2 linked regions of the Homo sapiens genome follow. The protein of the gene in region 1 interacts with the protein of each later gene in a biochemical or structural test. Each region holds a gene or a part of one and is shown on either strand. Other genes may lie near its edges.

The links. The genes of interacting proteins can lie anywhere in the genome.
Region 2: the proteins of TRIM34 (region 1) and ZBP1 form a complex in vitro, tested with the Homo sapiens proteins (one study listed by BioGRID).

The regions. Positions count from the first base shown.
Region 1 is NC_000011.10:5,627,984-5,635,007, reverse strand, and holds part of TRIM34 (E3 ubiquitin-protein ligase TRIM34), read right to left. Parts: intron 2,754-7,024; coding exon of another isoform or gene 2,677-2,753; coding exon 2,254-2,676; intron 1,205-2,253; coding exon 1,109-1,204; intron 378-1,108; coding exon 147-377; intron 1-146. Other genes in the region: TRIM6-TRIM34 (tripartite motif-containing 6 and tripartite motif-containing 34), read right to left, coding at 147-377, 1,109-1,204, 2,254-2,753.
Region 2 is NC_000020.11:57,617,427-57,625,203, forward strand, and holds the start of ZBP1 (Z-DNA-binding protein 1), read right to left. Parts: upstream 3,001-7,777; 5' UTR 2,870-3,000; coding exon 2,836-2,869; intron 1-2,835.

The DNA of each region.
Region 1 (7,024 bases):
TCATTCATGTCCATGACATCTAGAATGGACGACAAGGCGGCACTGCAAGGCCAAAGAAACCCCTTAGTGTCACCACCAGGATGAGAACGCAAGGACACAGGAGGGAACTGTGTTCCCAGAATCTCAGATTGAGCGAACCTTCTTACCTGCAGCAGCTCCATTGTTGACCACTGACTCCGACACTCCACATCTGAGATGAGCTCTCTCACCAACTGCTTCTGCTGAACTAGCTCATCCTCAGCCTCTGCAAACTTATCCAGCGTCTTCTTTTCTTCTTCTTCCAATCTTTGCAGCTCTCTCTGCTCCTCATTATTTAGGATGCTTCTAAGCTGATCAAATTCTGTTTGTATCCTTTGTCTCTCAGTTTGTACCTGATACTGCAAGGATGGACAAGAGAGAGTTGTAGTAAGTTTGTCAGGCTAAGGCCTATTGTGCAAGGGATTAGGAGCCAGTAGGGAAATATATATATATATATATGTGTGTGTGTGTGTGTGTGTGTGTGTGTGTGTGTGTGTATTTATATTATCTGTATATATATATTTGTATTATCTATATATCGATTTTTTTTTTCAGGGAGTTCAAATCAGCAAGGGAGTAGAAGCAATAGAGGTACTTGGAGGGAAGCTATTTTTTCCTACTATTTTCCTTTCAGTACCTACCAAAACAATGACCTCAAACTGTCTTATCTAGGCCAACCCTGAGACAAAATATAAAACATAAGGCTTAGCTTCTAGATAGCTTTCCTGGATATTCATGACTGCCTGCCTTACCACACTCCTAATTTGAATCTTGAGGAAAACCATAGTCCTTTATGTAGTGTCTTCCACCAGAAGTAGTAGAGCCCCGTTGGAAAAGAGCAATGGAACACAGTATTTGCTAGCCTTCCTCATCATAGAGTCTATCTTTGTGCTCAGTTCCAGGTATGTATGTGTAATTGTAACATGTCCACTTTCTAGCCTCCACCCCCAACAGGGACAGGACAGAGAAGAGAACTAATCAAATGGCTTCAGGACTCATGCAATGTCAAGGAATAAAAAGGACGAGGCCTCCTTGGATTAAGGTCCTGTCAAGATTCCTGTCTCAGAAAACCTTCAGAATCTCCTCTTGCCTTCCAGGAAGTTTTCTCTTCTCTGATGTCAGCTTCCAGCTTCTCAGCTTCCTCCTCTTCCTTCTTCAGCCTCTTGAGGACTGCCTGGAGTTTCTCCTATGAGAAGGGAATCACACTACAGTCAAGCTATAAGCTTTCTTAGTATCTGGATAGAGGACAAACAGGGAAAAAATCAAGTTGATCCCAGAAAAAAGCAATTTACAGAAACTGTGAAGCTGGTGATTAGAATCTATGACATGGGGAAAATTTTGAGGAGATGAATGTATTGTTCATTCATTGTGATGAAAATCAATACCCCTCAAAAGGAGTAGCCTGATTCTGTCTTTCCTTAGAGTAAGTATTTACCCTGCAGAAAGTCCTTTCCTCTTATCAATGCTCTTTCCTCATTCAATCCACAATGTTCCTTAGCAATTATCCTGCTTAGAGAAGCAAGAGAGCTAACTTTGGGAAGGAATTTATCACTTATACAATGAAAAAGGAAAAAACAAGACAAAAATTTCTCATTCTTGGCTAAGAGACTGTACTCTAGGATCATCTGTTATGTAAATGAAAGGAATACACAAGAGTGTACCCCAGGCATTGGAAGCTGAGCACAGTGTGAAAGATGTACATGGAGAAGATCACGGGACTCAGAATTATGGTTCCACAGGGGGTAAAGAAGGATGAAAAGGGCTGACTCCTTTTTCAGACTCAGTCCGCCTGCACCCAGGTGATTAAAAAGCTTTATTGCTCACAAAAAAAAAAAAAAAAAAAGAAAGAAAAGGCCGGGCATGGTGGCTCACACCTGTAATCCCAGCACTTTGGGAGGCCGAGGTGGGTGGATCACAAGATTAGGAGTTCAAGACCAGCCTGGCCAAGATGGTGAAATCCCGTCTCTACTAAAAATCCAAAAAAAAAAAAAAAAAATTAGCCAGGCGCGGTGGCAGGCGCCTGTAATCCGAGCTACTTGGGAGGCTGAGGCAGGAAAATTACTTGAACTCAGAGGGCAGAGGTTGCAGTGAGCCGAGAGCACGCCACTGCACTCCAGCCTGGGCGACAGAGTGAGACTCTGTCTCAAAAAAAAAAAAAAAAAAAAAAGGATGAAAAGGTGAGATTTTCCACCAACTACCATCTTCTGCCCCATCTCCCTCCATCTAGGGCCCTACCTGACATTCCTTGAATACTTCCTCCGTGAGGACTGTGTGGTGACCACGGTGCTCCTGAGACCGCTCACAAAGCCAGCAAATGACTTTCCTATCCTCCTTACAGAAGAGTAGGAGTTTCTCTCCATGATGATCACAGAGATCTCTCTTCTTCCCATTGTCTGGGCTCAACTTGACCTCCTTGAGTCTCTCCACTATGTTGGCCAGATGCTGATTAGCCTGTAGATGTTCAAATGAGTAACTGATACCACACACAGGACAGCTGCTTTTTCCTCCCATGCTGGTCACTGCCTCCTTGTTGCTCACAGTGATGCAGGCTCGGCAGAGGCTGTGGCCACAGTCTAGACTCAAGGGTTCTGTCAACAGCTCCAGGCAGATGGGACAGGTCACCTCCTCTTGTACGTTAAGCAAGATTTTTGAAGCCATTGCACTGCTTCCCTGGCTTCTTCTGGTCCTAACTCCTGAGGCTCTCCTCTCTCTTCTGGTTAAAGACCCCTGGATGGCTGAGAAGATTGAAAGGGGATGGTATAAGAATGGTACAAATAAAAAGCATTCTAATTGCACAGACAATAAAGACTGGCCGAGACTGCAATATCAAAGAACAAAGAAGATGAGGAAGAGAAACCAAAAATGGCTGAAAGTGGTCTGGGCGAGCTGTTAATGCCTCAAGGCTTTTGCACTTGTTCATTACTCAGCCTAGAATTACCATCCTGTTGCTATTTGCATGACTTTCGTTTATACTTTTTTCAACTTTCTCCTTACATGTCCCTTCATCAGAAGGGCTGCTAAGACAAACTTAAGTACAGCACAACCACAAACTCATCATTCAGTGTACATTTGCCATCTTTCTTTTATTATCATTATCTATTTTTAAATGTCCACCTCTTCTTTCTAAAACATAATCTACATGTAGATTAGGCACTTTTGTCTTTTTACTGCTATAGCCTCAGTGTTTAGAACACAGAGAAGCACAATGTTTGATAAACATATAAAAAAAACTTCCCTGTCTCTCCACAGATGACTAAAACTTTATCATTGTTTCATTATCTTCCTTCCATTATTTGGAAATTCTTCAATAGCTGAACTTTAGAACCCCAGATGTGGTTTCCAGTGAAGAAGTGCTCGCCTCCTAACACATCTACCCACACAAAATCCTCCCATGCCCTCACAGACTTTCCAGAGATACCGACAGAAACAGCAATGACCACAATATGGAGATTTCATTACCAGTTACAATTTAAAAATCACTTTGGCCTGTTTGTTCCTCCTTCCAAAATTCTTGAGAAATAAGAGTACTCCCTTTCTTCAGATGAATAAATAAAATTAAATGATTTACAAAGATCACCCAATTCGATGGTAGAATTGGAGTGAACATAATACCCTCAGAGTTCTCTTTCAGAGGTCTCCATGCTACTCCACTTATTTAAACAAAGAAAAGCCGAGGTAAAGCCTGAAAGAAGTAGATTGGGATCCAGGGTTATGAGAGTGTAGAAATGGAGGAAACCACATAAGTTGGGAATTTCTGGGGGGGTCTTGTGTTTGTAGATGGTAGGATTTCTTCTTGGCCTGAAGGATGTTACAGAGGTTGATAGGAACCCAAAGGTGTGTATTCGTTGGGGGAGGGGTGTAACCAGCTGAATTACACATAGATCACAGATTCATACCAATGTCAGATCATCGAGGAATAGAAATAGCAAGGAGATGGCTGTTGGCCATGAGAGAGATGTCCCAATACATAAAGGGAGACCACATTTAGGAGCGATGAAGTTCTGTCTGTGTTAAATCCACATCCACTAATTGAATGCCAATTATTCATGTGTTTATTTTGGAAATTCTCACTGAAGACATATTATCTTCCGTGATTAAAATTCAGGAAATGGATTAAAATCCAAAGTTGAGTAATGAACAGATGGTATTAGCCAGAATAAAGTAAACAGTCACCTAAGAAGATAGAAGCTAATTATATAATCATTCATAAAATGTAAAATGGTAGGTGTAAAAAACACCATCATAGAGAGGTATAGGTTTTTAGAAGACCAAATAATGTGCTAAATAGAGAACTATCCAAGATATCTTGCTTGGATAAGTAAGAGTTTAATGAAAGCTGAATAATGAGAAAGGAATACAGAATGAGAAAGAAAACAAATATTTTAGGCAGAAGGAATCATGGAAGTGAATGCCCCGTTCATGGAGGACATAGCATCATAACATGTTCGAAAGTTTTTAAATGTGTGGCTGATATGCAAAAAGCCCTAGGCCTTGGCCTCACATGAGCCTAGAGGAACCTGGATATGTGACACTTCCTAAATGAAGTAAAAGTGACAGTCTCTTTCCAATGAATAGGAGGTGGGGGCAGGGATGGGAGGATGCAGGACAAGTTAACAGAGAGAAGCAGATGAGGGTGGGAAGTAGGGTAAGGTAAAGGAAATAAGATTGGAAGTCAGACTAGACATGTGGGGGAAAAAAAGGTTATCATTAGGCTTAAGTCCTTTCTTCCTATAAAAAACACATCGCCATCACCATCCCCTGGTATATTATTTTATTTTTATTCTTTTTGGTAAGCACAGACCTCATTTTCCGTAAGAGGATTGAGACTCTTGTAACAAAATATTCTCTGTAGGGCCCTGGAAGCTATGTTCATGGTCTTTACAAGGGAATCAATCCGTTGATGTAAGATTTACCTAAGCTACGTTAGTTTCACACGCATCCACATGGTCACATGGTCTTGTACCACCGTAAGAATCCTCACTGAGGCCGGGCGCGGTGGCTCACCCCTGTAATCTCAGCACTTTGGGAGGCCGAGGCAGGCGGATCACGAGGTAAGGAGATCAAGACCATCCTGGCTAACAAGGTGAAACCCCATCTCTACTAAAAATACAAAAATTAGCCAGGGGTGGCGGCGGGCGCCTGTAGTCCCAGCTACTCGGGAGGCTAAGGCAGGAGAATGGCGTGAACCCGGGAGGCAGAGCTTCCAGTGAGCCGAGATCGCACCACTGCACTCCAGCCCGGGCGACAGAGCGAGACTCCGTCTCAAAAAACAAAACAAAACAAAAGAATCCTCACGGAGAGCTCACCTGAAGCGGCCCTGTCTGCATGCTATATCTCCTGTCCTGTATTCCCCCTGTGGAGTTAAGCTGCATGAGTGCAAATGGCAAAACAAACCTGCAATTATTGCTTGTGGTCAGCCAGAGGGTGTACCACAGAGTAGTGGCATGATGATACAATGCCAATTCTCAGAACCTGAGGTCAGTTTAGACAAGAAACTGTGAGGCAAAGGGAAAAAGGGTGGCTCTCAGTAGGCAGTAACATTTTGATACTTGTTCTAGTAGATAGATTTATACCCTCCACAAAAATTGTTCACTTATGTGAATGTGAACTTATTTGAAAATCACATCTTTGCAGGTGTAATCAAGTTAAGATGAGGTCATACTGGATAAAGACAGGCCCTAAATTCAATGACCTGTAGTTTTTGTTTTTTTTTGAGATGGAGTTTCGCTCTGTCGCCCAGGCTGGAATGCAATGGTACAATCTCAGCTCACTGCAACCCCCGCCTCCCAGGTTCAAGCGATTCTCCTGCCTCAGTCTCCTGAGTAGCTGGGATTACAGGTGTATGCCACCACGCCCAACTAATTTTTAGATTTTTAGTAGAGACGGGGTTTCACCATGTTGGCCATGCTGGTCTTGAACTCCTGACCTCAGGTGATCCACCTGTCTCGGCCTCCCAAAGTGCTGGGATTACAGGTGTGAGCCACTGCACCCGGCCTTGACCTGTGTTTTTATAAGAGGAGAAGACATACAGACACACGGGAAAGAAAGCCATGTGACAGTAGAGGCAGAGATGGGAATAGCACAGATATAAGCCAAAGAATGCCGAGGTTTGCTAGAAACCACCAGAAGCTAGGAGAGAGGAATAGAACCGATTTTCACATAGAGCCTTCTGAAAAAAAAAAATCAACTTTGCCGCCATCTTGGTTTTGGACTTCTGGGCTCCTGAGCTGTGATACAAATTCCTGTTGTTTTAAGTCATCTAGTTTGTGATAATTGGTTACAACAGTGCTAGGAAACTAATATAATTGAACAGGTTTGATAGTGAAAGAAAGATCTGTGATGTGTGACAACTTAGGAATCTTTCCCACGCTTGGCAAAAGGATGGGGTACAATAAAAGCTGTATGGAGATAAACCTAGGCCTCGAGACCTGTCTACTCCTCTAACCATCCATCAAAAGACCTTAAGGAGGAAAAAAAGCTGAAAGTTGACTGGCGAGTGTCATCCAGCCAATGGTACAGATACTAAAAATCATACAAAAGAGATATACTGGTAGCCCCTGGCTACAATGACCATTGGTCAGACCAGGATCTGATGACTAGTAAGACAAGGAGTTTATATGATATGATAATATTCACCCCTGTTTATGGCTAAAGCCATGAGCCAACCACAGATGTGGGGTTCTTTGTTATCTTTTATTCCAATCAGTATCCAACCAATAGTTAGAAATACCGGGGGGCTCCAGGAGAGGAAGTAGTAGAACATGCATTCTGCCACGGGCTGTGACTTCATGTTCACAGTGAGGATGCATGTTGATGCCAAAGCTGCTGCCACCATAATGGCAAAAGAATGAGAAAAGTGCAGAGTAACCACGGTCCCACGTGTGAGAAATGACCCCACCACTTCCCAGTGTGGCTCAAGCCCAGCAGCAGTCAGGGAGGTAGAGAAGGGAACATGAGTGCCATTGGCCTGACAGAACTCCCAGGTTACCTGGTTACCATAGCTGCC
Region 2 (7,777 bases), on another chromosome or scaffold:
CAGAACTTCCCCTAGTGTCCCCTGCTGTGCTTGCATGGCTCACTGTTGTACCTTCAGCATCTAGCACAGTGCTGGGCACACAGTAGGTGCTCAGGAAATGGCAGTTGAATGTATGAGTGACTGAGTGAATGAATGAATGAATGAATGGGGCCAGGAGTGGTGGCTCACACTTGTAATCCTAGCACATCAGAAGGCTGAGATGGGAGGACCCCTAGAGGCCAGGAGTTCTAGACCAGCCTGGGCAACATAGTGAGACCCCCATCTCTACAAAAAAAGAGAAAAATCAGGTAGGTACGATGGCATATGCCTGTAGTCCCAGCTGCTTAAGAGGCTAAAAGTGGGAGGATCGCTTGAATCTAGGAGGTAGCAGTTGCAGTGAGCTATGAATGCACCACTGCACTCCAGCCTGGACAAGACCCCATCTCTGGAAAAAAAAAAAAAAAGGACTGAATGAGTGAGTGTCTGTCTCTAGGGACAGACGTTTACCCAATAGACCCTGGGCAGGGCCCGGGTAGCTTCTCCTTGGCCAGTTGGCAATGTGCTGCTGTTTCCTGGCCTGAGTTTAATGAGGACTAAGCAGGACCCCAAGAGGTTCAAGGAGGAATTCTCCAAATGGCCCCTGCTCCTCCTGAGGCAGCTCTTAAAAATCAAAACCATTAGCTCACACAATGATTAAAAGATCAAAGCCAGCTGCTCTGCCCAGAGATGAGGCTGGGGCAGACGCAGGTTACGGGCAGCACCTGGCAGCCAGCAGCCTGGGAGAGCCACTGTGGGCGGGGGCCCCACCTGTCACCAGGAAGCTTCTGCTTCAAGGAACCTGAGGGCAGTGCATGGGAGAGCCCTTCTTGGAAAGACCTGAGTTCCCCTTCCAGGACAGTGACTCAGTCCTTTGTCATCTGGGCTTTCTTTCCTGTTCAGAGGATTCTCCAGGTTTGCCCAGGGTTCCTTGGTCACAGCACTTGTAGGGGAGGGAAGAATCAGTTTGTGCCTCACCCTGATGGTTACAACGCTGACCGGCTTGCCGTGTGCAGGTGAAGACCAATTAGAAGACCTGGGAATTCCCACTCCTGCGCCCACCAAACTCCCCCACCGGCAGCCAGCAGCACCTCCATGCACCTGACTTCACACCTGGCTTCACCTTGTCTCGCAGAGTTTTTTGTTTTTTGGTTTTGAGATGGAATTTCGTTCTTGTTGCCTGGTCTGCGGCTGCAGTGGTGTGATCTCGGCTCACTGCAACCTCCACCTCCTGGGTTCAAGCAATTCTCTTGCCTCAGTCTCTCAAGTAGCTGAGATTACAGGCACGCACCACTACACCCGGCTGATTTTTGTATTTTTAGTAGAGACAGGGTTTCCCTTTTTGGCCAGGCTGGTGTCAAACTCCTGACCTTGGGTGATCCCCGCAACTCAGCCTCCCAAAGTGCTGGGATTGCAGGCGTGAGCCACTGCGCCTGGCCGCAGTTTTGATTCTGGAAGGCTGACCTTAGGGAGCCACTGCCTCGGCTCCACACACCCCAGAGGAGATGGGGGTCAGAGGTGTGGATGCAGGACAAGCACTGGCCCTGGGCTGGCCTCGACTGCTGAGTCCCAGGCTACTGTGTCTGAAAATGGGAAATTGTAAAATGGAGCAGGTGTAGGCAACAATTTGGTCACAAAAGGAAAATCAACTGGGGAGGAAGACAAGAAAAGCCAGCGAGGGCTGAGTCCGGAACCTGCGTCAGCACCCGTGAGTCCCCGAAGAGGAAGCTCCACAGGACCTCCGCGGTCAGCCCGGCTCCTGGGCCACACCCTGACATTAGCCCTCCCGGGGCACACTCTGTGTTGGTTTTTTAAAATTCTGATGGCTGATTTCCTGGGTTTGAGCTCCTAGCCCTGCCAACTACTAGCTGTGTGACCTCCCCTCCGGCTTCAGGTTCCTCTTCTGTGAAATGGAGACAGTAATAACTACTTCAAAGATTGTGGTGAGGATTAAAAACAAAACAAACACATCCCCCAAACCGCAAAACCACACTTCACCTACAGTCCACAGCGCTTAGTGGAGACCCTAGAGAACAGCAATTACTCGATACACTATTGGCTTTCATTGCAACTCTTCCAGGAATAAAATGAATGAAATGTTAGTTGAGGAAAGGATGCAACAAGGGGGAACAAAGGCACACATGTATCTCATCAAAGCAAACCGCTTTGTTCTCGATATGACTGTGACATGGGTGTTCAGACGCTAACACCAGCGTTCGCCAGCTGTGTTACCCTGAGAGTGTCATTTCACCTCTCAGGGCCTCAGTTATCTATAAAATGGGAATGACATGGCACTTGTCCCTGCAGGCCATCAGGAAATGCTTGGAAAGCATGTTTCGAGGTGCCTGGGGCACAGTCAGCTGTCAAAGGGGGATGGCTATGCTGTCCCTTTCTATTTTTTTTTTTTTTTTCTGAGATGGAATCTCACTCTGTCACCCAGTCTGGAGTGCAATGGCGACATCTCAGCTCACTACAACTTCCACCTCCCGGGTTCAAGCGATTCTCCAGCCTCAGCATCCCGAGTAGCTGGGATCACAGGCATGCGCCACCATGCCCGGTTAATTTTTGTAATTTTAGTAGAGATGGGGTTTCGCCATGTTGGCCAGGCTAGTGTCAAACTCCTGAGCTTAAACAGTCCACCTACCTCGCCTCCCAAAGTGCTGGGATTACAGGCGTGAGCCACCACGCCCAGCTGGTCTACTATTCTTTAGGATACTGCTATTGTCATCATGATCTGGACCAAGCGAAACAGGAGGAAAGAGAAGTAGAAATCTCACCCCGGGAGCTACCGCTGGTCCTTGGAAGGAAGAAGTACTGTACCTTCTCTGCCCGGGTCAGCAGGAGCCTGGGCCATGCTGACAGCAGCTGCAAGGAGTCGGAGAGACTTGGCAGGTGTGCAGGCTTCTGCACTGTGGCCCTGAGAGGGTGGGCTAGGTCGAGGCTGGGGCTTCTGAAGTGGCCGAGCCTGGTGCTTCTTGCAGCTCTGAACCCACAAGGGGAGGGATGCCAGCTTCCACTGGGCAGGTGTCAGCTGCTTACAGCCCGGAAATAGATGCCTAGCCAGGCCGGCCAGATTCGGTTTCAGGAGAAAAAGAAAATGAAACTTCTCTGTTCGTCTTTTGAAAGAAAAAAAAAGTGGAAGCCAGGTGGATGAGCAAGACAGAGTTGGGGACCTGACTTGATGTTGACAGGGAGGAGCTGTAAACTTGGCAAGACCAGAGCGTCCTCCGAAGAGGCCTTTGAGACAGAGGACTTCCCTCACCTTCCCCGTTCCAGGCACAGCCCACCTGGACCTCTACATTTTTATTTTCTGAATCAGCATCAGAGAACTGAAGAAAATAAAAATAAAAAAAAGAGCATGCACCACGTGGAGGGGGATGCCAGGGCGTGGCATCACTCTGATGATGTGAGGGGCTGGGGCTGGTTATCTGGTTTCTGTGTTTTTGTTTGTTTTTGAGACAGGGTTTCTGTCATCCAGGCTGGAGTGCAGTGGCGTGATCACGGCTCACGGCAGCCTCGACCTTCCGGACTCCAGCGATCCTCCCACCTCTCAGCCTCCCTAGTAGCTGGGACCACAGGCCTAGACCACCATGCCCGGCTAATTTTTGTATTTTCTGTAGAGATGGGGTTTCATCGTGTTGCCCAGGCTGGTCTCAAACTCCTGGGCTCAAGCGATCTGCCTGCCTTGGCCTCCCACAGTGCTGGGATTCCAGCCGCAAGCCCCCACGCCCGGCCCCGCTGGTTCCTGTAGTACTTCCTCCTCGGGGACTCACAGGTGCTACAGAGGCACCGTCCCCAGCTCTCAGTGGCTTTTCTTGTCTTCTTCCAGTTTGTTTCCCTTGCCCACACTAGGGGCAGAACATTTAGGTGCGTGAAGGCCCTGAGATTGTTCTTGTGTGTATCCATGTGAGCCTCTTTAATGAACACCTATTATGCGTTTTCCAATCTCAAGTGCTCCTCCAACCCATCTACAGGGTAGGGGCCAGTTCTGTCTTCTTCTCAGGGGGGAAACTGAGGCTAGAAAGGCAAGATCACTTGTCCAAGGCCACACAGAGTCCATGACAGAGCTTGTCCTGTCCATTCCCCAATTGTGTTTCCTGATCTATAACACCCAGAAGTCACTGGTGAATCACCCTTAGTGCACAGATGGCGTGGAGTTCCCCGCCTCATCATAAAACTTGCTTATTAATTCCAGAGTCAGATGCCTGGGGTCAGCAGCCGAGTGGTTCGGAATGCAAGCCTGGGTCAGCATGCTTGGGTCCAAACCTGGCTCCGCCATTTACCGGCTGTGTGACCTCGGACAAATTATTTAACCCCTCTGTGCCTCAGTTTCCCCATGTGTAAAAGGACTTAATCAAAGGACCTAGCGCATGGGGTCGAGGTGAGGACCTAAGGGGCTGATACAGCCCAGCTGTCGGGCTAGAGCCCCAGAGCCATCCGTAGTCACGGGCACCGTGGTCACCTCACAGGAATGCTTCTGGGAGAGGACCCGTTGCTTACATAATTCTCAAAAGGGCCAGTGACCTCAGAAAAACTCAGAGCCACTGTTCTCTTCCAGATCACAGAAGGAGGAACTGAGGCCCACAGAGGTGAATGCTGTGTACAAGGCCCCCCAGCTTTTGGCAGCCAAGGGGGTTGAGAGCTCAGCCCTGGAAGTCCCTGGACTTGGGGTCTGTGTCTCATCTGCAGAGGGCTGGGAGGGCTAGAGACGTCTGTGCTCCTTGCAGACCCCATTTATGCATAAGGAGCAGCTTAGCGGCAAATACAAATGGAAAGGGGGTCCGGAGGTTTATCCTGAAGCTATCTGTCTTTGCAGAGCGAGCACCTGGAGCCCAGGTCTTCCGCCCTGCCTGCATGTTAAGTGTTTGAAGCAAAAAAAAAGTCTCAATGCCCAGGCCGGCCCAGACTAGTCAACTCCAACCTCTGCGGCTGGGGCCCGAGGGTGAGATTTTTTATGCTCCTGGGTGACTTTTCCTGCTTCCAGGTGGAGAACCAGTAAGTCTGGGGCAAGTCAATAACAGCAAACTGCAGGATGCTTTTATTCTCCTTTTATGTAAAAGCGAAAACTGCAGGTATCACCCTATGAAATAACAATAGTGCTCTTTAAATGGGGGGGTAGGTGGGGTGCTGAGGGAGATGATGAAGGTGCCCTCCGGAAGGGGCTCCGGCTGAGCCCTGCAAGGCTGAGTCCCTTGGGTGTCTGGGGTGCCACGCCCGAACTGGCCACCAGGTGATGCCGCTCACCAACCTGGGCTTGGGCGCACCTTGGCTTCAAGTTCCCTCTGATCTGCAGGGAGGAGCTCCTACCCCAACCCATGGTTGGACTCCAGACTTGATGAATCACAGCTCCAAGACGTGCCCACCCCTCCCACTGCCTTGTCCTGCATCATCCTTTATTCTTCCTGTCTCTTCAGTCACTCATCGTGGTTTCTTCACTCATCTTTCCTGGAAGGAGTCAGATTCCAGCTGTTTCTCTGTGAAGCCTCCAGGCAGTTCTTTGTGCTCTTCCGGCCTGGCCTCCCAGTGTTGGTCTTGACACAGCCCACCACTCCCCCGTGGGGAAACTCTCTCTCCCCCCATCTCCAGGGCCCATGCTAGCTTCTCCCCTTCCTTCCCTGGCCTCTGCAGCTCAGGCCTTGACCCCAGGTCCCTGGTGGGCTTGCAGGTCAGGTTGAGGGATGTTAGCTTGGTCTTGGGTGCCAGCCTTACTTCTAGGAAGATGGCTTCTGCTGCAGGGAGGAGGCTGGTGCCCCTCACGGCTGGTCTCCATCCAGACTGTGCTTGGATGACCCCTTTCTGTCCCCGTGGCCACATCCTGAAGGCACATGGAGCCCCTCTGGGCCTGAGCCATTTTTAGGAGTCTGTAGCAGGGACCACCATGCCAGTGGAGACCAAGCGCCTCGGGAAGTTCCCTGGACAAGGATTCTGTCTTGTCTCTTCTCCAGGGCAGGTTCTCCTTCCCAGCTGTGTGGCGCTACCTCTCTGAGCCGCGGTTTCTTTAACTATAAAGCAGAGATACTAAGAAAAAGCATTTTTGACACTTAGTATGTGCTCACAACATTTGCATAAGTTAGAAAACATGATGCATCTCCACAGTATCTCTTTAGACAGCAAACAAACAAAAGAGAGCAATAGACAAAAAGAAGAAAACATTTCACGTGGGTAGGTTCCACCTTTCTTTGCATTCCATGGCACATCTGGAGATGAAGCCAGGAATCTGCTATGTGCTTGTCACCCACTGAGTGGGAGTCTTACTTTTAAATACTTAGATTGCCTTTATTTCTCTTCTCTATTTAAGAGCTGTTTAAGTTGAGTTTGACCCTAAGGATTATCTTTAAGCCTAAATACCAGTGGCTAAAACAATAGAGTTGTGTCTTTTTCTTGAAAGAGTTGTAGGCATTCCAGGTTTAGTGTGGTGACCTGGGGTCCTTCTACATTGTCGGTCTGCCATTTGTGGCCTTCATTCTCAAGTTTGCCTTACATTTTAGAATGGCTGCTAAGCTCCAGCCATTACATCTGCATTCCTTCCAGCAGGGAGTAGGAAAGGGAACAAGGGCAGATATCTCCCTTTAAGCACGCATCTTACAAGTTGCACACACATTCCACTAATACCCCATTGGTCAGTCTTGTGGCTCTTATCTGTAAGGGGAGGCCTGGAAAGATGGTCTGTATTGTGGGTCACCATGTGCTCAGCTAAAATTGGGGTTCTATGACTTTAAAATGGGGGACAGTAGATATTGGCAGAGACCTAGCTATCTCTGCCATTTCAAGGTTCCCTGGTGTCCCCAAGAAAGGAGCAAAGATACCTCCTCTGTGCCTTCAGGTGTGTCCATTCACGGGGTTCATTTATTCAGCAGTTGCTGTGCCTCCTTACTCTGCCTGGAAAGGGCCTCAAAGGCCACAAGACTTCCAAGATGGCACCACTGCCTGCTGGAGTCCTCATCTCCTTTTGCCTTGGAAGGCGCACTCCCTGTTCATGGCTTGTGTTTTTCTGGAAACTATTAGAGCTCTCCGCCCAAACCAGATGATAATTACATGTTACTGATCTTGAGTCTTTAAATTTTTCTCTCTCTCTTTTAAAAGAGAGATATTTTTACTGCACATTGTGTTGACAAAACCCAAGTCTCCCTTCTACCAGGCAGCCTGGATTTTATTTTCAGATTTCCTCTGTGAATTCATGCAGGGGGAGGAGGTGGAAAGGTACTGAATGTGAATAATAACATGTCTTTGGTCAGGGACAAGGGTCAGAGAACCAGGGGTGGCTGAAGAGGGGAATGGAGATTGCCCAAGGTCACAAAGTCATCCTCCTGGGGTGGAATGAAGACTGAGTAAAACTGGTGTGTCCAGGAAAGCAGGTTTTCATTGCAGTCCCTAGAGGAGTCTGCCCTGGCCCTGTTCTCTGCTCTTCCAGGCAGAGCTGTTGATGGGGCCTCCATTGTTTATCTGTATCCATTGGAGTTGAAGAGACCTGGGGTTCTGGTCTTGGCACCCAGCTTTTTAACTCTGTGCCTTGAGCAAGTTACTGCTCTGTCTGAGGCTCAGTTTATGTCTTTGTAAAGGGGGTCATAGAAGTACTTACCTTGTGGGATTGTTGCACAGGTTAAATGGGATTGTGTACCTGTAGGTCCTAGTAGAGCACTGGGCACATAGTATGTGCTCAATAAACAGGAGCTAGTCATGTTATCACCATGTGATGCTCAGCTGTCCCTCTCTCTGGTAATAAAGCAATCCTATTCACTCACCTGATCATTTGCCAAATACT